Homo sapiens: one gene and its partners. The protein of the gene in region 1 interacts with the protein of each later gene in a biochemical or structural test. Each region holds a gene or a part of one and is shown in the gene's direction. Other genes may lie near its edges. The genes, in order: TNPO1, NOSIP, HNRNPD and RGPD5.

Region 1 (7,902 bases):
ACAAAAATTTAATTCCATGTTTACTTCTGATAATTTTATAGTTTTAGTGCTTATATTTTGTTCTATGATCCATTTTAAGTTAATTTTTGTATACAGTGTGAAGCAGACGTCCAATTTTGTTCTTTTACATGTGGATACCCTGTTGTTTCAGCACTATTTGTTAAAAAATAACTACCTTCTTCCCATTTAACTGTTTTGGCTCCTTTGTTGAAAATTCACTCAGCTTCTTGAATCTGTAGGTTTATCTCTTTCACCAAATTTCAGAAGTTTTCAGACATTATTTATTTGAGTATTTTTAGCCTCACCCTTTTTCTTTTCTCCCTCTAGGACTCTGATTTCATGAATGTTACATCTTTTGTTGTAGTCACTTAGTTCCATGAGACTCTGTTCTTTTTAGTCTATTTTATCTCTTTTTTAGAGTGGATAATTTCTGTTGTTCTGTCTTCAAGTTCCTTGATTCATTCCTTTGTCTCCTTCGTTCTGTTACTCAATTCATTTAGTTTTTTATTTTGATTATTGTATTTCTCAGTTCTAAAATTTCCATTTGGTTTTTCTTTATGTCTTCTGCTTATTTAATGAGACTTTCTATTTTTTTCATTTGTTTCAAGTGTTTTTGTAGTTGCTCACTGAAGCATTTTTATGATGTCTGCTTTAACATCTTTGTCAGATAATTCTAACATCTTTGTCTTCTTGGTTTTGTCATTTATTAATGGTCTTTTTTCATACAGTTTGAGATCTTCCTAGTTCATGATATAATGAGTGATTTTCATAAAACCTGGACGTATGGGATATTTATGAGGTTTTGAATCTTATGAAAATCTCTTTTAGCTGGCTTTTTCTAACATGGTACTGGCAGGGGAAGTGGGTATGGGGAACAGGCACCACCTCATTGTTGCCAAGTTGGAGGAGACATCCAAGTTCCTCATTTGGCCTCCACTGACACCCAGGATGGGAGACTCCTTGTTACTGGCTTGTGATGATGAAAGTACTGGTTCTTTATTTGACCTTCTCTGACACCACCCTGGGAAGGAGGGCTTAGGGCACCTCTAAATAATTATTTAAATATTTTTCCATAATGCTAACCTGAAGATGTTTCAGTGTAAGGCAATTCTTTAAACTACCTAATAGTCTGGTGAGGGTGGGGATCTAGGCTATCCACTAGGACTTTGCTGACATGAGTAGGATGGGGTCACAATTCTGTCTGTAGTTTTGCCTAGAGTATGCAATTATTGTCAAAAAGTTTTCTGTCTGCCATACTCCTTTTCTGGCCCTTCAGCTGGAGCAGTGTTTTGATGGGGCCTTTTTAGTCTGTGCCATTGGTGTTTCTAGGTTGCTGATGTGTAAAGTTTCAAGTCTCTAAAGACTCTAAAGCAAAAAGAAAACACAGGCAATTAACCATCATGTTGTTCCTTGGGTTCCAAGGTCTCTAGTTGATCTGTCTTCTTTCCACCATTTGGAGACCTTTATGTTTGTTTTATACATAATGTTCAGAAGTTTTAATTATACTTAGTGGGAGGAATAGGGACAAGCATATCTATTCCAACTTCCCAAAAGTGGAAATCTAAGTAGACCTTTTTATAAGCAGAATCATATTATAATCACTAGGACATATTAATACTTAAAGGAGATTTGAAGTTAATTTTTCCCAGTTAATAACTCCCTAATTTATATTTTTAAGAATTCAAACTTTATATATTGGGTTTACTTTAAATGAGAAATGCCTGTAGATTATTTACACATTTCTGAATATTGACTACAATTGTCCTCTTCAATATTTTAATTAAATTCTTCCAAATAATTACTGAAACTTTTTTTCATAATGTCAACCTGAAGATGTTTCAGTGTAAGGCAATTCTTTAAACTACCTAATGTGAAATAATTGTCTTCCAGAAGTATAAATGGTGACAATATTTTAGAAGATCCTATTCTATTTTATTTGTTTATTTTTATTTTTTCATTTATTTTTGAGACGAAGTCTTCCTCTGTCACCCAGGCTGGAGTGCAAATGAATGGCCTGATCTTGGCTCACCGCAACCTCTGCCTCCCAGGTTCAAGCAATTCTCCTGCCTCAGCCTGCTGAGTAGCTAGAATTACAGGTGCCCGCCACCATGCCCAGCTAATTTTTGTATTTTTAGTAGAGACGAGGTTTCACCATGTTGGCCAGGCTGGCCTCAAACTCCTGACCTCAGGTAATCCGCCCATCTCGGCCTCCCAAAGTGCTGGGATTACAGGCGTGAGCCACTGCGCCCAGGCTTATTCTATTTTAGAAGCTTGCCTGTATATAAAAAATTACTTATCTTACTAGGTTTCCATATACTCACCAACAATTGCCTATTAAAGACATTTATTTAACAATTTTTGAATTTCCAGACTTACTTTTTCAATAATATTCCTCCTTCTCAAACATCTTTGATTTATATTAATGTCTAGTAATACTTTCATTCATTGCCCTCTAACAACCTGCCCTGCACTCTGCTAATGAGTTCTTTATGTAACTTATCTTACTTAATCTTGTTTCAGACAAAAGAAAGTGAAGCTCAGAAAGACTGAGCCAAAAGCATTCATAAATGGTAAAGCCAGCATCTGCATATAGGTCCTCTGCCTGCAAGCTCCACACTTGTTTTAACAATGCTACACCTGACAAAATAAGCATCTTGTCATTCCTAGGTGAAAGCTTATAGGTATGTTTTCTCCCTCAGATGCTATTTTGTAACTTCTAACATGTTTTTATTTTTATCTTGGTAAATTTTTCACCTAAGAAAATAAAATTAATACAGAAATTTTAAATATATCTATGTTTTAAAGGTAAAAACAAAGTTTATAAATTTTAACTTCATTTTTGTCATTTAAAAATTATTAATAATTCTTCAAAGTTTTACCACATGAGCATATTTAGGTATAAAGAGAAAATACTACTGGATAGCTGCTATTATATGTGCAAACTGTCAAAGAAAAATAAAATAAGCCATGTTAATAAATCCTTGTTAATAAGATTTACTGTTTAAAACATGTTTTTTTAATTTGACCTAGAAGAGACAAAAAGGCTACATGTGTAAGAATCTCTATTCAACAGAACTATTTTATATTAGTATTTTCATTCACTTTAATTTTTACAAAAGAATACATATTTAATTTGCTTAATCTCAATTTTACAACATCTGATAATCAACATTTTTTTCTTTCAAAATGTTTTGGCCAATAAATCCTCTTATGCTAAATAATATGTTACTTTTTCTTCAATTCATTTCAGCTATTTCCAAACTATTAATCAAGTGAACTCCTACTAATTGCTTAGTCAGTAGTATTTACATCTGTCATTATTTGCTAATCTTTTGGATTTTAGAAATATTTGTGTTTTTTCCTTTAGCAAAGTAGAATGCAAATACTACACATCTTCTGATTTGTATAGATCCTAGTCCACGATGTAACTTTTCAAATGCAGAAATAAGCCATTTGTTATTTGGATAAATATACTTTTTCTGGGTATATTTTCCTGCAGATAAACTACCATTCAGAAAAGTTTATATTACATTTTTTTCTTGGTAATCTACTCCTATTTGGGGGGGGGGGCTCTTTTTGATATACACTACTGTATCCAATTACTATCAAATTAATATTATAACATGTTGAAATCATGAATATTTTAGTTATCTATATTTTCCCTTGCTAAGTTCAATTTCCCAATGATTAAAAAATGGTACTTTTAGTCTCAAATTTTAAGTTAAATAAACTAGTTGTTCCTGCAAAATGACTGTAATTCAAATGAAAATTGTTAACACGTTTAGAAGAACAAATAAATTACCTTAGTAAAAATTTAGACATTTTCTAGTATTATGTACTGTAATTTTACCTAAACTATGACAGGAAGGCAACAACTGTCACACATTTTCAAAATATATACAGCACTTCCAGTAAGATAGTCGGAACTGCTGGTATTTCTACTCACACTGATCATGTGAGGAATATTATCACGGGCATCATCACCTTAGAAAATAAAAATCAGCTAGCTATGCAAATTTTAAGTATTTTTATACAGTAAATTTTACATATAAGAATAATCTGAGGGAAGGAAACTGATATTTATCTCATTACCCTTGTTGCAGTTGGGTATAAAAACGTCCACCACTCCCATTTTGAATCATTTGCCGTACAGAAAATACAGGACATTTTAATTTCTCATGATGGCAGGTTAGGGAGAGAAAGGCTTGTTATTTCTAAGAGCAAGAAACTACAGTTTTATAGGATTGAACACCTGGAGGCGTAAACATTTTATAAATCACTGAATTCTAATTACATAGTAGTTTATACGCCAGATACAACATACGTCAAAAGCCTATCTTGTTCTAAGCGGGCAGCCATCCACCGGCGTCTACCTACCGAAGCCATTTCTGCTTTTTACCAGCGACGCTGGAACAGTGTTATTGTGGGATATGTTCAGTGTTGAACAGGCTCCCAGGGCACGGCTGTTACTTTGGAGGTTATGCTGGGGTACAGAAGTTAGGCTGGGGCAGGGCCATCCACCTAGGAGGGCCCAGCACAGTCTGGGCAACCACACCGGCGGGCCGTTTTGCTCACAGCCCCACCGCGCCGGGCAGCGTCTGCAGCTGCTGCGTGCGAGACCCAGAGGCTCCGGTCAGCGCGCCGGCCGCAGGGAGTGCGAGCACTTGTGAGCCCCGCGCCGGGCCGGTGAAGTCTGGTGCTGCCGAGCCCGCTTAGAAAGCACGGCCGCGCGCTGTCGGACGCAGGCCCACAGGCCCAGCCGACCCAGGCAGCAATTTTCCTAGCCCCGCCGCCGTTGCCAAGGCGACCGCCGCCGAATGTTCCCGCCGCGGGCTCCGCCCCCCGGCCAATCGGACCGGCGCTCGGTGAAGCCCAGATTCTCTTTGTTCCGCAGCCATTTCAGGCCCCGGACAGGAGGCAGTGCCGCTTCGGCCGAAGGCCCGAGCGCCCGAGGCGTCTGGGATGGTGTGGGACCGGGTAGGTGGCGTGAGGGTGCGCGGCCCCGAACTGCAGGGGCGGGAACGGAGGCTGGGAGCGCCGAGCTGCCTGACGCGCCTACGGGAGAGACGCCGGGCTCGCCCGCTCTCTCGGCGCCTGCCCGGCCGTTTGAAGCCGAGAGGCAGCGGCGGCGCGGTTCTAACCCCAACAGCTGCCCGCCCAGGCGCCCTGCGGGACCCGGGTAGGGAGCAGGCGACGGCGGCTCCTCAAGCGTCCGAGGATCCCGTTAGGGGCGGCAGGAGCCCGTTACAAGGGGCGGGAAGGGAAGGGTCTTACATTCAGGGGAGCGTTTGCCTCGCCTGTTAAGCTGTGGCGTTTGAGGGCCCTTGAGTGCTGCAGTCGGCTGCCCCGGGACGGCTGCCTTTCACTGGTTCTGGGCGCTGGCCGGCGCTGCCCGAGATGGGCCAGTCTTTGTCCCGCCCTGGGCCCCTCTGCCCGGGTCTCCTGCGTCCGCACACAGCGCCCATCGTCCTTACATGCAGCTTGCCGTTCTCTTCCTCCCGGCGGTTCTTTCTCCTTGGGGCCTCTTGGCCTCACGACATGTTTACATAATGTTTGTGACTGTACGAGTTTTGCGTGGGCTTGTGGGTTTTGCCCTTCTACCTCCACTCCCATGCGTACAAGCAACAGGGAACAGCTGCTGAGGAGCAGATTGGCCACCACAATCAAGCTATTTTCGGAATGACTTTCTTTAAAAATGATCGCGTGTTGCTTACTGATTTTAAAAATCAACTGGATTTTGCAAGGATTGCTTAGAGTTTAAGTCTGTTATCTTAATCGCTAATCAGGATGGTCTATCAGTAGATGTAAATGTAGAAATTTGAAATTGGAGGCTATCTACAAATTGATTTTGACAGCTGTATTAAGAAGCTTAATAACTGTCCTTTGAAACAGTAATGACTTAAATGATGAATGTGTAAGTGGTACTTTTTTTACCCTAAAGAAAAGATACTTTTAAAATTGCAAGATGTATGGTGTAATAGGTGTTTGGAAATGAAGGTTGTAAAATGGCTGTCCTGACGTACTACTCACTTTTAGAATAACAAAAGTTCCTGCAGCTTTTTAAGTTTCCCTGTTATATCAAAGCTTTCATGTTAGAGTGGTGAAGAAGCTATGTTTAGTGGAAAAGGGGAAAGTTCCGTTTTTTGGGAAAGGATCTGTTTTCCACTTTCACCTTACCTGGCACCGTAGTTGTTCCTAGAGAAGGCTGTGCCAGGATGAAAATTAGCAACCACAAAAGGGAAACAATAGTTTGTAGGTGCAGATATCTTTTTTAGTCTCTAGCTATGCAGTGCATAAATTTATACTAGCTTGGCAGTACGATTTTTACTTCATGCAATTTAACGTGAGCCTAATGAAGTACTAGTGTTCTGTTTTCTTTTTCCTAAAAGGGGCCGCCACCCTTGATGTGGCTGCATCTTTCTCCTAGTCAGGAATTATTAAATTCCTCCCACTGAAATATCTATAAAAATCTTGTTTGCACTTCTACCTCAACTCTCAGTGGCTTTATTACCATTATATAATGTGAGCAGAATAAGATTTTTGTAAAAATACATGATTCTAGTTGTAAGCTTTTCCAATATCAACATTTCTTATTGTATTCATTGTTTTTATGACTGTAGTTTTGCTTATTTATAATTTTAAAGCCATTCCATGAACTCAGTTTTTCTAAATGTTGTAAATGAGCTACTACATTGAAATGTAAACATCTGTATTTAGAAGAATTTCTTGAATTTTAACCATGTTGGATTCTGCAAATGTTTTTTTAAGAAAAGAAACCTGGTTATAAAGTGACGTCAAACCAAGTGACATAGGTAATGAAATAAATGAATTTATCAAATATAAACTGCAGAGAGGAGCACAGCAGTAAGTGGGGGAGTTCTTTTTATTGGCCAGGGTATAAATTGTGATATTTTTTCCTGAGATTGATATTTGAATACATATTGGTGCTAAAAAGATATCTTCCCCCCTCAAAACAGTTTGGTTTACCAGCAAAAGGATGAGAAAGCTGAGAGAATCAAAGAAACTGATGAGGTTTTCAAAAACAATGGCGAACAATGCCATCCTCAAAGAGGAAGGATCAGAAACAGTGAAATTCCCCTGGAGGTTGAGGATTTTTCTTAGTTGACCCTATTCAGCCATTGCCATGGTAAATCTGTTGAGTGTTGGCAGGTGAAGGAGTCTTCTGGGTTGTACAAGGGATGAGCTTCACAATGGAAGACAGATGTTTGCAAGAGTGGTGCCTTAATCCGTATTGTGTTGCTGTAAAAGAATACCTGAGACTGGGTCATTTATAAAGAGAAGAGGTTTATTATTTAGCTCACGGTTCTGCAGGCTGGGAAGTATAAGAAGCAAGGCGCCGCCATCTGGTCAGCTTGTTGTGCTGCATCATAACCTGCTAGAGAAGGTCAAAGGGGAAGCCACCCCAGGCAAAGAGGGGGAAATCTGAGGGAAGGGCCTGGCTTTCTAACAACTCACCCTCAGGGAACTAAATCATGTCCACCAGATCATGATCAGATTTCAACATGAATTTTGATGGAGACAGACACACCATATTCAAACCACAGCAAGTGGTAACTGATTTGTAGTTGTATGCGTGGATGTTAGTTAGGAGAGGTTTTCAAAAGCAAGTTTGATTGGGTTGCTTTGAAGGGTCCTTTGAAGTACTGTAAGTTGCTGTAGTAAGTAGGAATATTAGAGTTCTAGAGTCTGAATGGTCAAATGAGATATTGAAATGGGAAATAGGGAGGTGGATTTGTCCTGGAATTTTCTGGAGTAGATAGAATACATATAGGAATAGTGGCTACATCTTAATCCAAAAAGACACTCCATGCCAGAGCGAATATTACAACTCAGTACTGAAAAAAAGCTGATAACCGTGAGACCATAAAGTTGGGATTGATA
Region 2 (7,024 bases), on another chromosome or scaffold:
GAGGTTGTAGTGAGCTGAGATCGTGCCATTGCACTCCAGCTTGGGCAACAAGAGCAAAACTCGATCTCAAAAAAAAAAAAAAGAATTTTCAAGCACAAAAGATATGATGTGCCAGGTGCAGTGGCTCACACCTGTAATCCCAACACTTTGGGAGGCCAGGAGTTCACTTGAGTCCAGGAGTTCAAGGCCAACCTGGGCAACATGGCAAAACCCCATCTCTACTAAAAATATAAAAATTAGCTGGGCGTGGTGGCACATGCCTGTAGTCCCAGCTACTCGAGAGGCTGAGGCAGGAGAATCACTTGAGCCCAGGAGGTCAAGGCTGCAGTGAGCTGTGATTGTACCACTGCACTCCAGCCTGGACAACAGAGTGAGTCCCTGTCTCAAAAAAAAAAACAAAAAGAAAAAACGATGTTAGATTAAAAATGGGTGGCAGAGAGGGAAGTGGAACGGAAATACAAGTTCAAAGAGAAAAACAGGACATGTATAATTTTCTGCTGTTGAAACAGCTTTTTCTTGCATTTTTCAAATGGTCTCAAATTATTACAGTATTTAGATTCCATCAGCTACACATTTACGTTGCTGGAAATTGTATCCTTTGCAACTGTTTAAGCTTGGGAGAATTTTTAGGTGGCAACTTAGAGATGAGTGAGACAAGTATATAATGTTACTAGATCTTCTCTCTTCTCTTCTTTTTCTTTTGACAGAGTCTCTGTCTGTCACCAGGCTGGAGTGTAGTGGTGCAATCTCCACTCCCTGCAACCTGCACCTCCCAGGTTCAATGAGTCTCCTGTTTCAGCCTCCCGAGTAGCTGGGACTACAGGCATGTGCCATCACACCCAGCTAATTTTTGTATTTTTAGTAGAGACAGGGTTTCACCATGTTGGCCAGGATGGTCTCGATCTCTTGATCTCGTGATCCGCCCCCGCCTCGGCTTCCCAAAGTGCTGGGATTACAGGCATCAGCCACTGCACCTGGCCATCAACTTCTTTGTTTTTAAATTTAATAGAGATGGATCTTGCTGTGTTGCCTAGGCTCATCTCCATCTCCTGGGCTCAACAGTCCTCTTGCTTCAGCCTCCCAAAGTTTTGGGATTACAGGCGTGAGCCCTGAGCCTGGCTCTAAATCATTTTAAGGGATAAAAAAGCCTGCAGGGGCCAGGCACAGTGACTCACGCCTGTAATCCCAGCACTTTGGGAGGCTGAGGCAGGTGGATCACCTGAGGTCAGGAGCTCAAGACCAGCCTGGCCAACACGGTGAAACCCCGTCTCTACTAAAAATACAAAAAAATTAGCCAGGCGTGGTGGCAGGCACCTGTAATCCCTGCTATTTGGGAAGCTGAGGCAGGAGAATCGCTTTAACTTGGGAGGCAGAGGTTTCAGTGAGCCAAGATCATGCTATTGCATTCCAGTCTGGGCAACAAGAGTGAAACTCCGTCTCAAAAAACAAACAAACAAACAGGCATGCAGGCTGTTTACTGGCCAAGCAGTCTTGGTGAAAGCTGCCCAGCCTCTGTGGGTTCAGGGCTTCTCCTTTTACAAATGAACTCCAGAAAAGTAGGGGGCTCCCTTCCTCACACCATACACAAAAATTAACTCAAAAAGTAAAAGTTAAAATGATCAAACCCCTAGAAGAAAACATAGGAATAAATGTGCATTATCTTGGCTTAGGCAATGTCTTTTTTTTTTTTTTTTTAATTGTGACAGAGCCTTGCTCTGTCTAGGTTGGAGTGCAGTGGCATGATGTCGGCTCACTGCAACCCCTGCCTCCTGGGCTCAAGTGATTCTCAGTGCCTCAGCCTCCCGAGTAGTTGGGATTACTGGCGTGTGCCACCACGCCCAGCTAATTTTTGTATTTTTAGTAGAGACGGGGTTTCACCATGTTGGCCAGGCTGATCTTGAACTCCTGAACTCAAGTGATCCACCTGACTCAGCCTCCCAAAGTGCTGAGATTACAGGCGTGAGCCACTACACCTGGTCTGAAACCACTTTAAAAGGGTTAATTTTATGGTATGTGAATTGTGTCTCAATAAAGTCATTTAAAAGGGTGGGGGTTGCCCTTAAGTATGGGGAATGATCAAAGGTATCAAAGTAAGGTGGCAAAATGTTGACAGCTGCTGGACCGCAGGACATGGGTACATCATGGGGGTTCCTTATACTATTCTGGTTTTGTATGTGTTTGAAAACTTACAGAATAAAAAAAGCTTTGCTTTTTGAATTGAGCTCCAGGGTTCTGGGGTCTTCTCTTCCTCCTTTACCTGCAGTGGGAGTGGAGGTAGCTCTTCCCCTAGACACAGAGCCCTACTCTGACCTGCCCTCTGATCGGTCGATCTGAGACATAATCACAGCTGCTAGATCCAGTCGCTAGTGGACTGGCAGGCAGCGATTGGGTCAAGCCTTAGCTAAGTGTCAAGCCTTAGCTAAGTGCCCAGCCTTGAGCCAATCACTGGGCTGGTCCACGCCTTGGCCTCAGTCAGAGCTTACAGATATGAGAGGGGAAGGGAAGGTGGAGTGGATTCATCAACAATAGTGGCCCCCTTGGTGTCTTTTTTTTTCCCCTCCATTAAATGGCACAGCCACCACCCTAGCTAATCTGAAGTAGTGGCTAGAATTTGAACTCTGGTCTCTCACCCTCTTACCTCCAAACAAAGAGTTTTGTTGTTAAAGGTGCTATTTTCACATATAAATGAGTCTAGGTGAGTCTGGAAGGAGGACTTCCTGGAGGAGGCCTGGCGACCACATGCCCTCCCTCTCTTCCACCTCACCCCCCTTCTCCGCCTCCGCTTTCCCATCAAGGGGGGCAGATCAGCTCTGAGGGCTGCAGAGGTCTTCCCTGTGCTGCCTGCCTCCGGTAACCACAGTCCTGCCACTGTCCCTTCCTCCCTAGGATGACGCGGCATGGCAAGAACTGCACCGCAGGGGCCGTCTACACCTACCACGAGAAGAAGAAGGACACAGGTGCAGGGCTGGGGTGGGAAGAGGCGGGACATGGCTGTGTCTTGGAGTCACCCTCTCCCCTCGTGCCCCAGGTTTTGCTTCCTCTGTCCCTGTCTCTCTCCCGCCCCCGATATACACTGATGGCCATGACCATGTAAACAACAGCTGGGTGATCCCATGACCCCATGTGGCCCGGCACTGTGTTCTCTGCCTTCTGCGCATGAACTCACTCCTCCCAACAGAGTGTCAGGGAGGGTGCTCTTGTTACCCCATGTTCCAGAGGAAGAAACTGAGGCCCAAAGAGGGACAGGCACTTGAGCTTGGTCACAGTCAGAAGGGTGGAGGGGAGTCAGCCGTCAGCCCCTCCACCAAGCTGCCACTCAGTGACCAGGCCTGTCTGCCTCTCACCCTCCAGGGTTGACAACTCCCTGTGGGTTCAGCCCGTGGCCCCAGCACACAGGCAGCGGCTCCCAACTGCCTGTTTCTCTCTGAGTCCCCCACCCCCACCACCGCGTTGTCTCTGTGCCTCTCTCTGGGGCTTTGGAGACGGACATGTCTCCTGTTGCTCCGCCCCTCCATCACTCTGCCCATCTCTGTCCCCAGCGGCCTCGGGCTATGGGACCCAGAACATTCGACTGAGCCGGGATGCCGTGAAGGACTTCGACTGCTGTTGTCTCTCCCTGCAGCCTTGCCACGATCCTGTTGTCACGTGAGCTGGGAACAGGGATGGGTAGGTCTGGGTGGGGAGAGCAAGGGAACCGCCAGGAGGAGGCTGTGTGCGTGGGTCTGGCCACCTGCACAGCCAGGGAACCCTGGATGAGCAGTTTATCCTCAGAGCCTCTGTATTCTCACATGGGACATGGGCATGATCCTAGCATCTGTTTCATAGTGTGGAACATATGGAAAGGAACATACTTCTAATGGGGTGTAGGGCTCTCAGAGCATTGCCGAGGCCATCGGAGCAGCTCACCTTTGGACACTTCCCATGACCTACCTCTGATGGTAGGGCAAAGGCTTAACAGGTGCTGAGTCCAGGCACTAAATACGTGCTCAATTAGTGGTATATTTTGTAGAAGACAGTAATTAATGATCAGGGCCCCCAAGGCCACCTTCAGGTTTCTTTTTTTTTTTTGAGACAGAGTCTTCACTTTGTTGCCCAGGCTGGAGTGCAATGGGGACATCTTGGCTCACTGATATCCCAGGCTCAGGTGATCCTCCTGCCTCAGCCCCCACGAGTAGCTGGAACCACGGGTGTGCACTACCACACCTGGCGTTTTTGTTTGTTTTTTGTAGAGAGGGGAGCTCACTTTGTTGCCCAGGCTGGTCTCGAACTCGTGGCTGCAACAATATGTGGCACACATTGTTGCTGAGAGAATGAAGCACTTTCCCTGCAGCTCTATTGGGAGAGGACAGCTGGAAGCTCAAATCTAGTCTCTACTAGATTCTGCCCCATGTGCCTTTTTCCTTTGCTGATTTTAATCTGCATCCTTTCACTGCAGTAAACTATCACCATGAGTATAACAGCTTTGCTGAGTTCTGTGAATTCTAGCAAATAATTGAACTTGGGACTGATCATGATGACTTCTGCCTATAATCCCAGCACTTCGGGAGGCCGAGGCGGGAGGATCACTTTCTTTCTTTCTCATTGCACCCTGTCTTTGCAGCCCAGATGGCTACCTGTATGAGCGTGAGGCCATCCTGGAGTACATTCTGCACCAGAAGAAGGAGATTGCCCGGCAGATGAAGGTGATGGGGATGGGGAGGAGGCGGCACACGGAGGCAGGAGCTTTTGAGTCTGAGCTCACAGGCAGAGCCACTCAGAGCCCTCTGATCTCAGTTCCCTCTGCCTGGTACACCATTCCCCTCCCCTGCTTCCGGCCAAATCCTTCTCACCGATTTCAGCCCAGATGCTGCCTCCTCTGAGCTCCTGCCAGTCCCCAGGATCTGCCCCAGTCACCTCTTCTCTTAGCACTTAGCATAGTTGTAGCTGTACATGTGGCTGTCTGACACATGCCCACTTTCCCTTATGGACTTCGAGTTTTCCCACCCTGTAGCTTAGGTCCTTAGTAAAGATATGCTAAATGGGTCGGGGGTGGTGGCTCACACCTGTAATCCCAGGACTTTGGGAGGCCGAGGCAGGCGGATCACTTGAGGTCAACAGTTAGAGGCCAGCCTGGCCAACATGGTGAAACCCTGTCTGTACTAAAAATAAAAAAATAAAAAAAAAAATTGAGCCGGGCATGGCGGGCGCCTGTAATCCCAGCTACTCAGGAAGCTGAGGCAGGAGAATCGCTTGAACCCATGAGGTAGAGGTCGCAGTGAGCTGAGATGGCACCGCTGCACTTCAGCCTGGGTAACCGAGCGAGATTCTGTTTCAAAAAAAAAAAAAAAAAAAAAGATGTGCTACGTGAATTGACATCACCTCATTTTTTCTGGGCCTCAGTTTCATCGTCTGTAAAACGGGCTGACGGCCAAATCAGAGGACACAGCAGGGCACCTGGGAGGTACACGCAGATGAGCATTCTCAAGGCGTGTTACTGGGAACCCGGCCTGGCCTTCCATGGACAAAGCCATTTGATGGGTAGGAGGGGCCCTGTTTGAGGCACAGTGGGTCTGTCCCCCTCTTCCCCTGCCTGGTTGCTGGCGCTCAGGAAACACTACAGGTCACATGCTTATTGGGCTTTTTGTCCCAAGCAGGTGGCTCCCCCTGTGCCCATGTCCTCCACACAGCCTGGTGGTCATGTCGGAGGCCCTCATGAGCATCCATCACTGTCACTGTTACCTCCTCACTCAGCTGGGTGGCCCAGGGTGGTCTGGAACTGCAGCACCGCCCAGGCAACTGCTGTGCGCCAGGCAGGGCTGAGCTCAGGTCATGGCTTCACTTCTCCCGTCCTCACTCACTGTCCGTCCATAGACATGGGCTCCTCAGCATTCCCTTAGATCTGAAGTCTACATCCCCCGTCCCAAACACGGGCTGGGGCATGCACTGTATAGAAAACTTAATTGGCCAGCAGGTGACATTAATTAAATGCTTAGCTGAGTGCCAGGTGAGGCTCTCCATGCTGTAAACACTCACCTTATGTAACCCTTCAGTGAGCCGCTGAGGTGGGTAACCACTGTTAGGCTGTTTTACAGATGAAGAAACTGAGGCCAGGAGAGGTCATAGTGCTCACTTAGGCCACAGAGTGACAGAGATGGGCTTTGAGCCCTGGCAGTCTGGCTATACAACGCAGTAAGGTTCACACCCACCCAGGGTGGCAGTTACCACCCTCTGCCACATAGTGCCTCCATCAGAGGGTCCCCTTTGTGGGCCTCAGTTTACCTACCTGTGAAATGGGAGGAAGATACCCCCAGCCCCACGGGCAGATGCTCAGCCCACTTTCCCCGACGCAGGCCTACGAGAAGCAGCGGGGCACCCGGCGCGAGGAGCAGAAGGAGCTTCAGCGGGCGGCCTCGCAGGACCATGTGCGGGGCTTCCTGGAGAAGGAGTCGGCTATCGTGAGCCGGCCCCTCAACCCTTTCACAGCCAAGGCCCTCTCGGGCACCAGCCCAGGTGACTCAGGTTGGGCTTCTTGTGGGTTGGGGGGCGGGGCGCCGCGGGCTGGGCGGGCCCAGGGGGCGGCATCTGAGTCCCTTCCTTCCCCCACAGATGATGTCCAACCTGGGCCCAGTGTGGGTCCTCCAAGTAAGGACAAGGACAAAGTGCTGCCCAGCTTCTGGATCCCGTCGCTGACGCCCGAAGCCAAGGCCACCAAGCTGGAGAAGCCGGTGAGCCCCCACAGCGCCCCGGCACGCACGGTGCCAGGGCGCCAGGGTTCCCCACCGTCCTCCTCACGCACAGGGACCACGCGCTCTCCACCTGCGCCAGCCCTGCCTACTGAGCCCGCCTCTCTCTGCCCCTTGCAGTCCCGCACGGTGACCTGCCCCATGTCAGGGAAGCCCCTGCGCATGTCGGACCTGACGCCCGTGCACTTCACACCGCTAGACAGCTCCGTGGACCGCGTGGGGCTCATCACCCGCAGCGAGCGCTACGTGTGTGCCGTGACCCGCGACAGCCTGAGCAACGCCACCCCCTGCGCTGTGCTGCG
Region 3 (6,845 bases), on another chromosome or scaffold:
CAGGTCATTTGAAGAAGCGTTTCGTTGTTGTTGTTGTTTTTGAAACAGGCTCTTGCTCTGTCGTCCAGACTGGAATGAAGTGGCATCACTGCTCACTGCAGCCTTGAATTTTTGATTCAAGCAATCTTCCCACCTCAGCCTCCTGAGTAGCTGGAACCACAGGCTCACGCCACCACACCCAGCTAATTTTTTTTTTTTTTGAGACATAGTTTCACTCTGTCACCCAGCTTGAGTACAGTGGTGCAGTCTCTACTCACTGCAACCTCTGCCTTGTGGGTTCATGTAATTTTCCTGCCTCAGCCTCCCCAGTAGCCAGGATTACAGGCGTGCGCCACCACGCCCAGCTTATTTTTGTATCTTCAGTAGAGATGGGGTTTCACCACATTGCCCAGGCTGCTCTCGAACTCCCGGCCTCAAGTGATCCACCCACCTCGGACTCTCAAAGTGTTGGGATTAGAGGCGTAAGCCACCGCACCCGGCAACAGAAACGGGTTAAACACAACCCAAGGCGTCCCTGGGTGGGCAGGAACTGATTTTTTAAATTTTTTGTAGAGATAGGTTTTGCTATGTTGCCGGGGCTGGTCTCAAATTCCTGGCTTGGCCGGGCGCGGTGGCTCACACCTGTAATCCCAGCACTTTGGGAGGCCGAGGCGGGCGGATCACGAGGTCAGGAGATCGAGACCGTCCTGACTAGCACAGTGAAACCCCGTCTCTACTAAAAATACAAAAAAAATTAGCCGGGCGTGGTGGCAGGTGCCTGTTGTCCCAGCTACTTGGGAGACAGGAAGGAGAATGGCGTCAACCCGGGAGTGAGCCGAGATCGCGCCATTGCACCTCCAGCCTGGGCAACAGAGTGAAACTCTGTCTCAAAAAAAAAAAAAAAAAAAAAAAAATTCCTGGGCTCAAGCAATCATCCCTCCTTGGCCTACCAAAGTGTTGGGATTATAGGCATGAGCCACAGCACCTGGCCAAAAGTTTTTTTTTTTTTAATGCCAGAGATGAAATGAGATGGTGTGGAGAGGAGACTTTCAAGTCCCTGGAAGAACACCTAGTTTGCTTGAAAGCCCCTTAATCTAACAAGTTGGACATACTTATTATTTTGTCATTCAATAATTCAACTGGCAATTACATAGTGTGGATATACTGCTGCTGTGTTTATGTGTGTGTGAGAGTGTGTTAGGGAGGGAGAGATACATAGAAGACACTGTTTTCTAAGAACTCATGGTCTAGTAGAAAACAATGAAGAATAACAGAGGTAAAGATAAAGGGCTGTGAAAAGGGATCATTAATTCTGCCTCAGGAAGCCTGGGAAGACTTCACATAAATAGTAACATTTGTTTGTTTTTGAGACAGGGTCTCACTCTGCCTTTCTCACTGCAGCCTCCACCTTCCAGGTTCAAGTGATCCTCCCACTTCAGCCTCAGGAGTAGCTGGAACAACAGGAACCACCATGCCAGGTTAATTTTCTGACTTTTTGTAGAGGCAAGGTCTCACTCCGTTGCCCAGGCTGATGGCCAACTCCTTGAGGCAAGCAATCCTCCCGACTTGGCCTCTCAAAGTGCTGGATTACAGGCGTGAGCCACCACGCCTGCCAGAAGTTAAGTGAGTTCCAAGAAGAATATTGTGTGGATGCAGGAGCACATCCTGGATGTAGAGATCTTGGCCATAATATCAAGGACTATCAGTGATATGGACATCATACATCCTCATAAAGCATGTAAAGGTGTTAGCTTTAAAATCATTCCTAGGTTGTCTGGAACTTTTGACATAAATTCTAAGAATTCCAGAAGCTCCTAAGCTACATGTGAAATCAAAATGAACCTTTTGGAAAAGTCACTATTACCAAAAGGTGGGTATGTCTAATGATATCTTAAGATCAAAATAAATGACAATTACCGTCACTTGAGCCAGAAAAGATTAAACAGACTTCCCTTCAGTCAATCATCTTAGTTGTATCTAACCCGGAATATATGGTTTGAGCACCATATCCACTTTATCCTTTGCTAATATTCTGGCAGGTGGAGACAAATGTGGAGTCACTACCACTTTACGGTAAACATTCTTGGTATTACCTTTATGTGACTTGATTATTACGGGAGTTTGGTAAGATTATATTTTTAGGACGTTTTCAGAATTTGACCTGTATTCTTGAGTTTTAATTATTCTGTAATGTAAATTCTACTAACTTGATTAATAAAACTTACTTATAATCTTCCTTTGAGATTTTTGGATAGTGTCCAATTAATACAAATTCGTTTAACTGCAGTGGAAAATACCTAAACTTTTTTTTTTTTTTTTTTTTTGAGACGGAGTCTCGCTCTGTCGCCCAGGCTGGAGTGCAAGTGGCATGATCTCGACTCCCTGCAATCTCCACCTCCCGGGTTCAAGCGATTCTCCTGCCTCAGCCTCCTGAGTACCTGAGATTACAGGTACCGGCCACCACGCCCGGCTAATTTTTGTATTTTTAGTAGACACGGGGGTTTCACCATGTTGGTCAGGCTTGTCTCGAACTCCTGACCTCGTGATCCGCCCGCCTCGGCCTCCCAAAGTGCTGGGATTACAGGCGTGAGCCACCGCGCCCGGCCCAAATACTTAAACTCTTAAGATTTTTGCTGGAGTCTGCAAACTCGTCTTTGTTTCCCCCGTGCCCGAACACTTTAATTAAACAGGCAAATAATTATTTGTTGACTACAGAAGTACCTAGAAGCTTCATTTTCTTCTAAGGATACTGCTGGAAGCAGCAAATCCCAAAGCCCGAATAATCCAGTCTCCAGCCGAGGCAGCGGGAATTTTTAATAGGTGTATAAAATTACTTTTTATACACCTTAATGAAACGCCTAACGGTGTTACAAGAAAAGAAAAAAAAAAACCACGCACACACAACAAAAAAGCCAAACCCGAACACAAACTCATAAACCTCGTAAAGATGACTCACGACATTTATATATTCTATGTACAAAGGCTAAAGAACATTAAGCGAACCCTTGATTTAACACACTTTCCAATTATTAGTAACGTAAAGGAATCACGGTACGTTTTAGGATCTTTAAACAACAAAAGCAAAGCAAAAACAATGTTTTCCTTAAGATATGCAAGTTACCTGCTTCTTCGACCAAAAACAAAAAAATTCCAGGAGAAAAGCAGGCAAACAAAAATCTTACTTGGAAAGCCAAATCTTAAAAAGAAGCCCTATCGGCCCAGCGGCGATAGACGAAAACCTCAATGTCACCCGGTCCCGGGCGGCGACGGCAGGGAGAGTAGCTGCGGCAATCAGTGCGCGCGCGGTCCGCTGCGGCGCCTGGCGCTCCGCGGGCGTCCGGGTGGACAGCGCCAGGGGCACAGGGCTGACATCTCAGGGCTAATTCCCTCCTCCAGTGCGTAAATCCAGGCTTAAGCCGCCGCAGGGTGTGAGCCTCCCCTCCCCCACCCGAACGCCGCAGCTGCACGGGGCACGACAGCCTTCGCAGAGGTGCAGCCACACCCCGGCCTAACGCTGCTGCTCCCGCCGCTACTGGAGTGGTGGGGAGGGGTGAGTGGACTCCAGGAATCCTCGGAAGGGCGGGGGCGGAGGCAGGGGGCCCCTCTAGCCGCTACTTCGAAACAGCACTCCTTGTTCTCGATGGTCCCCGCGCGACTGTCTTAGCTCACGACACTTCCGGTTCCTTTTAAAGGCCCCCAAGGCTGTGCAACGCGGAGCGTGAGAGGAAGGTATAAAGGGTAGCGAGAGGGCGGGACCGAGGAGGAAAGGGAAAAAAAAAAAACTAGGGGGATAGGGGTGGGGGGACGCGCGAAGGGCGCGCTCTCGCGTCACGTGACCGGGACGCGCCGTTCTTCCGTCGGCCATTTTAGGTGGTCCGCGGCGGCGCCATTAAAGCGAGGAGGAGGCGAGAGCGGCCGCCGCTGGTGCTTATTCTTTTTTAGTGCAGCGGGAGAGAGCGGGAGTGTGCGCCGCGCGAGAGTGGGAGGCGAAGGGGGCAGGCCAGGGAGAGGCGCAGGAGCCTTTGCAGCCACGCGCGCGCCTTCCCTGTCTTGTGTGCTTCGCGAGGTAGAGCGGGCGCGCGGCAGCGGCGGGGATTACTTTGCTGCTAGTTTCGGTTCGCGGCAGCGGCGGGTGTAGTCTCGGCGGCAGCGGCGGAGACACTAGCACTATGTCGGAGGAGCAGTTCGGCGGGGACGGGGCGGCGGCAGCGGCAACGGCGGCGGTAGGCGGCTCGGCGGGCGAGCAGGAGGGAGCCATGGTGGCGGCGACACAGGGGGCAGCGGCGGCGGCGGGAAGCGGAGCCGGGACCGGGGGCGGAACCGCGTCTGGAGGCACCGAAGGGGGCAGCGCCGAGTCGGAGGGGGCGAAGATTGACGCCAGTAAGAACGAGGAGGATGAAGGGTGAGTAAGGGGCATCCCAGGATAGTCAGGCCCAACTAGTCCCCCTCCCCCTCTTTATTCCCCCGCCATTAGGCCTGGTTCCCGCTCTCAGCCCGTTCTCCGGGCCCCCATGCAGCCTCCTTGCACTGGTCTCCCTTTTTCTATGTTGGGTTCCCCGGACCTTCATTTCCTTCTTCCTTTGCCTGCTTATCGCCCCCCTCCCCCATCACACACGTTTCCACCTTTAGCCGTCACCATGCTGCTCCTCGGCCCGCCCTCCTTTCCTCCCTCGCCATGGGTCTCCTCCCACCGACTTAGCCGCCAGGATTTTTTCCCGCCTGTCGTGGGGTACCTTTTTTCTTTCCATGCTGTCCCCTCTTTTTCCCTTTTTCTACAGTCTTGGGCATAAAAACACAGACACAAACAGCTTCTCTGTTTGTATTACTAAGGTTTATTTGGTGCTTCTCCACCATCCTGAAACGATGCGATTGTTTATAAGCACATGTTTTGGGGAACGCGTAGGCTGTCCACCTCTGCCTCTCCCTTGTCGGCCTTAGGCCGACTGTTTTCTTGGGATTTTGAATAAGTTTCGCCTAAGGATTTACTCATTTTCTCCACCATACGCTATCGCACAATGGCATACTCATACAGGCCCTACATTTTGACATGCAGACCAAATTGGGTCTGGTGAAATGCTCCGAGTTTCTTGTTGGTACATTGGTTTTGCTCCGCGGGCTCTGGTTAAGTTCTTAGTCGATCGGGCCTGCACTTGACTGGAGCTGTTCCTATCTCCGGCCTAGCATCTACCCTTCCCCCACCCCACTGAGTTATTCTAACCGCGCACCCTTTTCGCGCCCTCAGCTATTGGGTTCCCCAACTGTTAGTACAGATTGTACCTTACTTTTTATGTGCAACCTAATTTTTTACAACCCCCAGCCCCCTTTTTTTCCCGGTGCCCAGGATCCTATTTTGGTGTCTTGATATCTGTTTCCCGCCCACTAAGGGAGGCCTGTAGTCCTCTTAAGAGAAACAAATCCTGTATTGTGCTATGGGATACTTTTTTTTTCTTTTTGGTGCAAATTTCTTAGTATTAACTTGCTTCCTCCAATTGAAATAACAGTTGTATATACTACCTAAATCTGCATTTAGTGTATTAAAATGCAGCATTTGGGATTGGGAACATAATACGGGAGTTAGCAGGAGGGACTAAATCAGGTTTCTTGGTTGAGTTTTCTTAGCTCCGATTACTGACCGATGATCGTGGGTTCACGCTTCCATTCCTTTTTGTAATGGGGAGGGGTGTGTGTGTGTCTGAATTTTTTTTTAACTGTAAAGAGAAAGGTGTTGGTGGATATAACAAGATGTCGCTTTAATCTAGTATTAGAAAACACGATTTCCTTTACTGAGAAAGAGCCCAGGATTTGGAGGGAAAGTTGGGAGGGGAGAAGCACTTTGGAATATAGGGTTTATTAAGCCCAGCCTAGGCAGATTCTTGTCAGGCTGTTTGATGATAGTGCTGGTTTTGGGGGAGTGGTGGTGGGAAGGGAAGCAAACTTTTAAAAATTAAACAGAACCAACTCGAATTGTATATAGCTTATTTGAGAAAGGAAGATGTTAGATATTTGGAAACTTAAAACCTTTAACATTTTGGTTTTCGTTTGCTGAATTCTGTTCTTTGGACAGAGGCACCAAAATGATTAATTGTATAACTTCCTGTTTGGGGCAGGCTTTCTGTTAGCCCTGATAATTCAAATCGCAAAGCAGCTGACTTTATAGTTACCTACTGTTGAAGTGTAAATGAATTAAAGTTTTTAACCCTAACAGTGTCAAAAACTAAAACTAGAATTTTGATTGGTTGCTGTACCGGTTGTTAATTCCCTAGCCATTCAAACTCCTCCCCACGACACTCTGAAGCAGCGACGGCACAGCGGGAAGAATGGTAAAACTTTTAAATTTTATTTCTGTATTATAAAGGTTTCAGTAGTCATAATATGTAGAGGCTGTGTATTGGTTAGTTGCCCATTGATCCCCAGGAAATTCTAGACCATAGTACATACAGTAGGTTTGTACCTGGGATATATACCTTTTATAGGCATCATGTGTAATCTTTGGGCAAAATTGATGCCGTTACATGGTATTTGGTCTGTGGTAATGCATGTAGTTGCAGTTTGGCAATTTAAGCTAAACAATTAGTAACGATATTTTTATATCGAGCAAGAAAAAATATTACCGTAATCTTCACATTTGATTTATTTTAAGATGAAAAATATTTTTGTTGGAATTTAAGTTTAATGGCTAAATATGAAGACTCCTTGATATAAAATATTGTGTTTAAAATGTCATGCATGTTATACTGAAATATTCTGGAGATGTCTGAAGCAGTTCTTTAAGCAGCACTGTGTATTATGGAAAAATGTTTGTCTTTTACCTAGCATATTTGTAAATAGACCTTTAATAAGAAGTGTGTGTGTGTGTGTGTGTGTGT
Region 4 (7,024 bases), on another chromosome or scaffold:
CACCATTAGGTGTAGATGGTCAGCCTTTTGAACAAACTGACACTACAGAAGAGGCAGGTTTCAGCTATCTAAAAAGGACAACTGTTAAAAAGTAGTTTGGATTGCTACGTTAGAGTGGTATCATTAGAAGCATTTAAAAGTTGAGTGTAGAGGCCGGGTGCGGTGGCTCACACCTGTAATCCCAGCACGTTAGGAGGCCGAGGCGGGCAGATCACAAGGTCAGGAGGTCGAGATCATTCCTGGCTAACACGGTGAAACCCCGTCTCTGCTAAAAATACAAAAAAAAACTCTACTAAAACTACAAAATTAGCCAGACATGGTGGCAGGTGCCTGTAATCCCAGCTACTTGGGAAGCTGAGGCAGGAGAATTGCTTGAACCTGCACGGCAGAGGTTGCAGTGAGTTCACTGGTATTAAGGTGGTTTAGTTATTACAGTATTTGGAAGTTGAACAAATGACTATTGAGGTACCATTTGGTTTTGACTTGAAATTTTAGCCAGTTCTTACAACTTGTAAATGAACTTTAGATCTAATCATGCGTGTTCCTTAAAGTTGTGTGCTTTTAACTTTCTTTTTTAGGGCAGCGGTCTTAATTCTTTTTATGGTCAACTAGAATACATAGGGAGAAGTGTTCATTATTGGAAGAAAGTTTTGCCATTGTTGAAGATAATAAAGAAGAACAGTATTCCTGAACCTATTGATCCTCTGTTTAAACATTTTCATAGTGTAGACATTCAGGTAACAGAGTTCCTTTATGAATTTATTGGAGATGGGAATTTCCAGTTTATAAACAAAGACGTGGAGCTATAAACTGCTTAAATTAATTGCCTTGTTATTTAACGGTAATCTTGTTTTCTAAATTCACTAGCTCTCACAGATAAGATATGACAGAGAAGAGTAATGAGATGTTTGTCTCTTAAGATCATATAAAATCTTTGGAAAATCATTTGGGTTTTATATTCTGAGTATAAACAATTTGACTAAAAACTATTCTATGTGTTTAGGCATCAGAAATTGTTGAATATGAAGAAGACGCACACATAACTTTTGCTATGTTGGATGCAGTAAATGGAAATATAGAAGATGCTGTGACTGCTTTTGAATCTATAAAAAGTGTTGTTTCTTATTGGAATCTTGCACTGGTAAGTAGATGCAGTACTTGAGCTAAAAGTTGTATTTATTTATTTATTATTTTTTTTAAAAGACGGGGTTTCTCTGTTGGCCAGGCTAGAGTGCAGTGGCACAATCTTGGCTCACTGCAACCTCTGCTTCCCAGGCTCAAGCGATTCTTGTGCCTCAGCTCCCGAGTTGCTGGGATTACAGGCATGAGCCACCATGCGTGGCCAAGCTGAAAGTTTTTTGTTTTAAAAAGCTAATGATTTCATGAAAGCACTATTTGTATAGATTTTTCACAGGAAGGCAGAAGACATTGAAAATGATGCCCTTTCTCCTGAAGAACAAGAAGAATGCAGAAATTATCTGACAAAGACCAGGGACTACCTAATAAAGATTATAGATGACGGTGATTCAAATCTTTCAGTGGTCAAGAAAGTAAGTAGCAGGTTGTTGTATGTACGTTCTTACTGATAACCCACTGGTCAGTGTTTTTGCGTTGGTCTTATATTTTGGTAATTTCAAAAATACTCAGTAATATGTTGTTATTAATGCACAGAAGGGATGCGTGTGTCTAAATGCTTAGATTTGCTTGCTTTGTCTTAGGTTTGGTGTGTCTTTTTAAACTTGGGAATCTAGGTATATGCTCTTAAAAAGTACTTCTTGGGGAATTAGAAAAGATTTCTAAGATAAGACATTGATTTTGTTATCTTAGCAGTGTAATCAAAACAAATATTATAACCTCAGGACTAATTCTTAATGAACTTTGCTGAAATTGAAAGTTGTTGCTGACAACTTAAGAGCATTTCTTCTCATCGTCATCAGCCATTATGAACGCCCTTGTTTTCTTGCTGTCAGCTGTTTGAGATTGTCATGATGATGTTAAATTATGTTCAGTCTTCTGAGTGTTTTGTTGATTAATTTGTGTTACTACTCTTTTATTAGGATTTATGTTGTCTGGTGTATTGTAGCATCTGTATTTCTGTCACCATTGAAAATCAGTTAGAAAACATCAGTAACTTATTTTGTTCACTTGGAAAAGCTTTCCAAGTTAACATTCCTCTACAATTATCATGGTTAACAGAAGTAATAGAAAGAGCATGGACTTTAGAATCAGAAGATGTTAGACTGTACAACACTTTTCTGTGTTCCTGAAGAAAAAAATAGAATAAAGACAAAAAAATAAAAATAATAATACAAAACAACAGAAAAACAAAGAAAAAAGATAATTAAAAAACACTTTCACGTGTATTATTATTTAAAGTGTAAAGTGCTTATTAAAGTGACAAAAATGTAAATAAGATAAAATATATCATTTTAGAGTTTTTACTTTTGGAATTTTTTGCAAATGAAAGCCCTTAATTAATGTCTTTTATTTTTAGTTGCCTGTGCCCCTGGAGTCTGTAAAACAGATGCTTAATTCAGTCATGCAGGAACTCGAAGACTATAGTGAAGGAGGTCCTCTCTATAAAAATGGTTCTTTGCGAAATGCAGATTCAGAAATAAAACATTCTACACCGTCTCCTACCAAATATTCACTATCACCAAGTAAAAGTTACAAGGTAAACAGGAAAGAATGGAATCATTTCATTGTGAAATTGTTTCTGTTCTAAGTGTTTTAAATGCTGTTTTGTTATTTTTATTTTTTTTTTCAGTATTCTCCCGAAACACCACCTCGATGGACAGAAGATCGGAATTCTTTACTGAATATGATTTGCCAACAAGTAGAGGCCATTAAGGTAAGTCACTTAATTTCTCTAGCTGTACTTTTTATTCCAAGATTCCTTCCCTGGCTACTCTCTCACTTTTTTTCTGAAGCTGGTCAGAATGTCCCCTTGCCATCCAAATAGTATGGCAAGGGGACATTTTGGTCTTTTTTTTTTTTTTTTAAGACAAGGGTCTTGTTCTGTTGTGCAGGCTGGAGTACAGTGGTATGATCACAGCTTACTGCGGCTTCAACCTCCTAGCTCAAGAGAGCCTCTTGGCTCAGCCTGCCACGAAGCCAGGACTACAGACAGTCACATGCCACCAGGCCCAGCTAATTGTTGTATTTTTTGTAGAGATGGGATTTTGCCATGTTGCCCAGGGTGGCCTTGAACTCCTGGCTCAAACAATCCTCCTGCTTCAGCCTCCCAAAGTGCTGGGATTGCAGGTGTGAGCCACTGTGCCCAGCCTACATACCTCGGTCTTGACCCTTTACCATATTTTGTTTTGTTTTGTTTTGAGATGGAGTCTCACTCTGTTGCCCAGTCTGGAGTGCAATGGTGTGATCTTGGCTCACTGCAACCTCCACCTCCCAGGTTCAAGTGACTCTCCTGCCTCAGCCTCCCGAGTAGCTGGGATTACAGGCACCCGCCACCAGGCCCAGCTAATTTTTGTATTTTTAGTAGACACAGAGTTTCACCATGTTGGCCAGGCTGGTTTTGAACTTCTGACCTCAGGTGATCTGCCCACCTTGGCCTCCCAAAGTGCTGGGATTACAGGTGTAAACCACCGCACCCAGCCCTTTACCATATTTTTGAAAGTACTTTATGTGTCTCTCTCCTCATCTTCCACAAAATTTGAGACCTTCAAAGGTAGAAACTGTTTTATTTAAAATATAAGAGTTCCTGACACAGAGAAGGTTCCCGAGTGATTGAAGTGCTACAATGTACTAATCATACTCTGGTCTATGAGTTCATTCCCAGATTAGCTGTGGATTACATGTGTTTCAAATGTATAGCTAGGAATCGAAAAGTGGTCTGAGCTTCAAAAAGTCTTACTATATTTTAATACTTCCATATGAATTTGACTTAATTATGTAAGGAAATAGTTATGTATATATATCTTATTTTAACAATAGGGTTCAAAGGAGCTTGACTTTTTTGGAATTGGAAATAAAAGTAGGTTCTTTCATGTTTATCAAGCAAGAACTAAATTACTCATACTGCTAAAGTTACATCAAGGATATGCTGATGTGTGGCGATTATTACAGTGTGATCAGCAGCATTTGCAAATTAAGAGAATACTATTTGGTGGGGAAGACATTTTTGAATTTGCACAAAAATTTTGAATGTTAATTCTGTGTAGTCGTGGCCTATGACAATTACATACAATTTTGACTTAACATACAGGTTTCAGGCTCCCAACATTGTATTCTGTGGAAGTATAGTGGAGCACTAGTCCATGAGCTTGAAAAGCTTGGTACTAGTACTGACTCTGCCATTAATTAATGATCTTGGGCCAGTCACTTCCTTTGTGACTGTTTGGCTTCTTATCTTTAAAATGAGAGAATTATTGAAGCCAGTTCTCATCACACTGAATGTTAAAAATTACAGTTACAGCAGTGATTGCAAATTCAAAGCTCTGGTGCGGATACCAACAGTGACTATAAAGTTTTCTAGGTGATTCCACTAGTTTCTTATTTCTTGGATGTGTATGTGTAGCATCTGGACTAGGCACTGTAGATGGATGAATGGGGGAAATTTTATTTAGCTTGAAAATTGAGATAGTTTTGGACCTCATGGTTAGGTCTTTCTGGGAAATTTTTAATTGAAACACTTGTAGAAACAGAAAGCAGACATGCTAGATCTGTCCCTGACCTCACTTGTTAGAACTGATCGGATTCCTGGGCTGATACAGAGAAGTTTGAAACTTTTCAAAATTTACCTGTTTTCTGATACCACTACAATTTCTTTGGAAAAAGAATTTCCTGTTAAGTGTCTGTTTTGTAAGGGGACATTTTGTAGGTTCTAGGGTGTTGGGTATGGTGCTGTCATTTAGTTTTCTTCAGCAGAGATCAAGTAGCCACATAGCTACACTAGACGGCATTGGATCTATCTGCCATCTTGTCAAGGCAGCAGAGTTGTGTTAAGAAAACATTTTTGGAGTCAGATGTGTTTCAAATTCCAGCTGTTATTCCCTGCATCCGTTTCTCTCATTTTAAGATAGGAGCTAATATTGTTTACCTAACAGTGTAGATGGTGTAAAAATTAAGAGTTTAAGTGCATTGGACGTATTATTATATACATAATAAATTCTCTGCAGCTACTACTTTTTTCCCTTTCCTGGTGGAGCATTTGAACATCACCTTGAGAATTAGTTGTATTTTGTTTGAACACAGGGTTAAGTGAAAAGCTAATTTGGGGAGGTGATTTGGAATGTCAGGTAGTCCAGGTTGCAGTGTAGAAAGAACACACTGAAAGGATGGTCAGTGTAATGTTAGAGGACTGTGAAAGTTGGGGAAAGAAGTTTAGTTTGTAGGTACTTGTTTTTTTGAGCAGGGAATTGTCTTGGCTGGAGGTGAACGTCAGAAAGGTTAATGTAGGCAAGTGTAGAATGGAAATGAAGGTGTGATCATTTAGGAGGTTATTTGTTTAGGTGAGAGAGTTAATGAATTAGGTTTTGTATTAACGAATGAAAATGGGAGCAGATAAATTTTTAACAAATTAAGAATCATATTTTAAAATCAGCACCAGGTACCTAGAACTCTTTGGCAAATAGAAACTTTCAAAAGATATAATCAGGTCCGGGCGTGGTGGGTCACACCTATAATCCCAGCACTTTGGGAGGCTGAGGTGGTGGATCACTTGAGGTCAGGAGTTCAAGACTAGCCTGGCAAACATGGTGAAACCCCATCTCTACTATTATACCAAAAATTAGCCGGGCGTGCTGGCTGACGCCTGTAATCCCAGCTACTCGGGAGGCTGAGGTGGGAGAATTGCTTGAGCCCAGGAGGTGGAGGTTGCGGTGAGCCAAGATTGTGCCATTGCACTCCAGCCTGGACGACAGATCGAGACACCATCTCAAAAAAGAAAAAAAGAAAAAATCAGTTATTTAAATTTAAAAGAGTAAGTTTCCCCAGCACTGTTTCTGGCATGATATAATTAAATGATTAAAATTATTTGATTTTTTTTTTCTTCCAATAGAAAGAAATGCAGGAGTTGAAACTAAATAGCAGTAAGTCAGCATCCCGTCATCGTTGGCCCACAGAGAATTATGGACCAGACTCGGTGCCTGATGGATATCAGGGGTCACAGACATTTCATGGGGCTCCACTAACAGGTGAGCTGGCAAGTGGATAATCGCATATTTTAGTAAAACTACTTTACTTCCCTCTTTTAAGTAGATAACGTGTGAAATCACCTTGTTTATATATGTTTGTTAATATACATGTCAACGTCTGTTTATATGTGACTTCAAAAGCTGTATTAGGTGTTACGGAGATTTTTATAATCCCAAGCAGAAAAAACGAGCCGTATGTGATCACGTGTATATAAAGGCTTAAAGAACACTTAATCCACACCTCAGATGAGCTGAGATGAGATTATTCCTTAAATTGCAAAATGTTATTGAATAGAGTTATGCACTAAGAAATGCTTAATTAAGAACCTACACCTCTGGGGAATTATTTTGATGATAATGATGAGAGGCAGGACGTTATATAGGAAATCTTACTTAATTTGAAATATTATGGTTATATAAAGAAAGAAAAGGAGTTTGGACCTGAATCATACTGGGTTTTTAAGTTCTGCTCTATCACTTACTATAATAGCTGTGTAAGTTAACCTGTCTGAAATGTGGAGATAATACTTGCCTTACATAATTACTATGAGCATTTGTGTATGTGCAGGTGGGCGTGGGTGTGTATCAGACATTTATTAGAGTATACAGTAAACAGTTAATGAACTAAGGTTACTAATAGTGTTTACTGTGGGTTGGCTGTGTGCAAAAGTGCTGTGTGAATGTAATTTGATTTAATTACAGTAACTTAGAATGGCCGGTACCATTATTAATCCCTTTTTTATAAATAAGGAAATGGATAAAGAAAGGTTAGGTAACTTACTCATTATTATACAGCTAGTTATTGATAGAGCCGAGATTCACACTCCAGTGGTGTAACTCCAAAGCACTTGCCAGTATAATACATTGCT

Evidence for each region.
Region 2: the proteins of TNPO1 (region 1) and NOSIP form a complex in vitro, tested with the Homo sapiens proteins (one study listed by BioGRID).
Region 3: the proteins of TNPO1 (region 1) and HNRNPD form a complex in vitro, tested with the Homo sapiens proteins (one study listed by BioGRID).
Region 4: the proteins of TNPO1 (region 1) and RGPD5 form a complex in vitro, tested with the Homo sapiens proteins (one study listed by BioGRID).

Annotation. Positions count from the first base shown.
Region 1 is NC_000005.10:72,811,776-72,819,677, forward strand, and holds the start of TNPO1 (transportin-1), read left to right. Parts: upstream 1-4,885; 5' UTR 4,886-4,962; coding exon 4,963-4,977; exon of another isoform or gene 4,978-5,179; intron 5,180-7,902. UniProt on the Homo sapiens protein: Functions in nuclear protein import as nuclear transport receptor. Serves as receptor for nuclear localization signals (NLS) in cargo substrates.
Region 2 is NC_000019.10:49,556,555-49,563,578, reverse strand, and holds part of NOSIP (nitric oxide synthase-interacting protein), read left to right. Parts: intron 1-2,886; coding exon of another isoform or gene 2,887-2,887; coding exon 2,888-2,957; intron 2,958-3,539; coding exon 3,540-3,645; intron 3,646-3,674; exon of another isoform or gene 3,675-4,144; intron 4,145-4,229; exon of another isoform or gene 4,230-4,600; coding exon 4,601-4,682; intron 4,683-6,329; coding exon 6,330-6,489; coding exon of another isoform or gene 6,490-6,498; intron 6,499-6,585; coding exon 6,586-6,704; intron 6,705-6,842; coding exon 6,843-7,024. UniProt on the Homo sapiens protein: E3 ubiquitin-protein ligase that is essential for proper development of the forebrain, the eye, and the face. Catalyzes monoubiquitination of serine/threonine-protein phosphatase 2A (PP2A) catalytic subunit PPP2CA/PPP2CB.
Region 3 is NC_000004.12:82,370,982-82,377,826, reverse strand, and holds the start of HNRNPD (heterogeneous nuclear ribonucleoprotein D0), read left to right. Parts: upstream 1-3,835; 5' UTR 3,836-4,148; coding exon 4,149-4,381; intron 4,382-6,242; coding exon 6,243-6,299; intron 6,300-6,845. UniProt on the Homo sapiens protein: Binds with high affinity to RNA molecules that contain AU-rich elements (AREs) found within the 3'-UTR of many proto-oncogenes and cytokine mRNAs.
Region 4 is NC_000002.12:109,825,298-109,832,321, forward strand, and holds part of RGPD5 (RANBP2-like and GRIP domain-containing protein 5/6), read left to right. Parts: intron 1-578; coding exon 579-737; intron 738-1,003; coding exon 1,004-1,141; intron 1,142-1,403; coding exon 1,404-1,550; intron 1,551-2,494; coding exon 2,495-2,674; intron 2,675-2,767; coding exon 2,768-2,851; intron 2,852-6,019; coding exon 6,020-6,155; intron 6,156-7,024.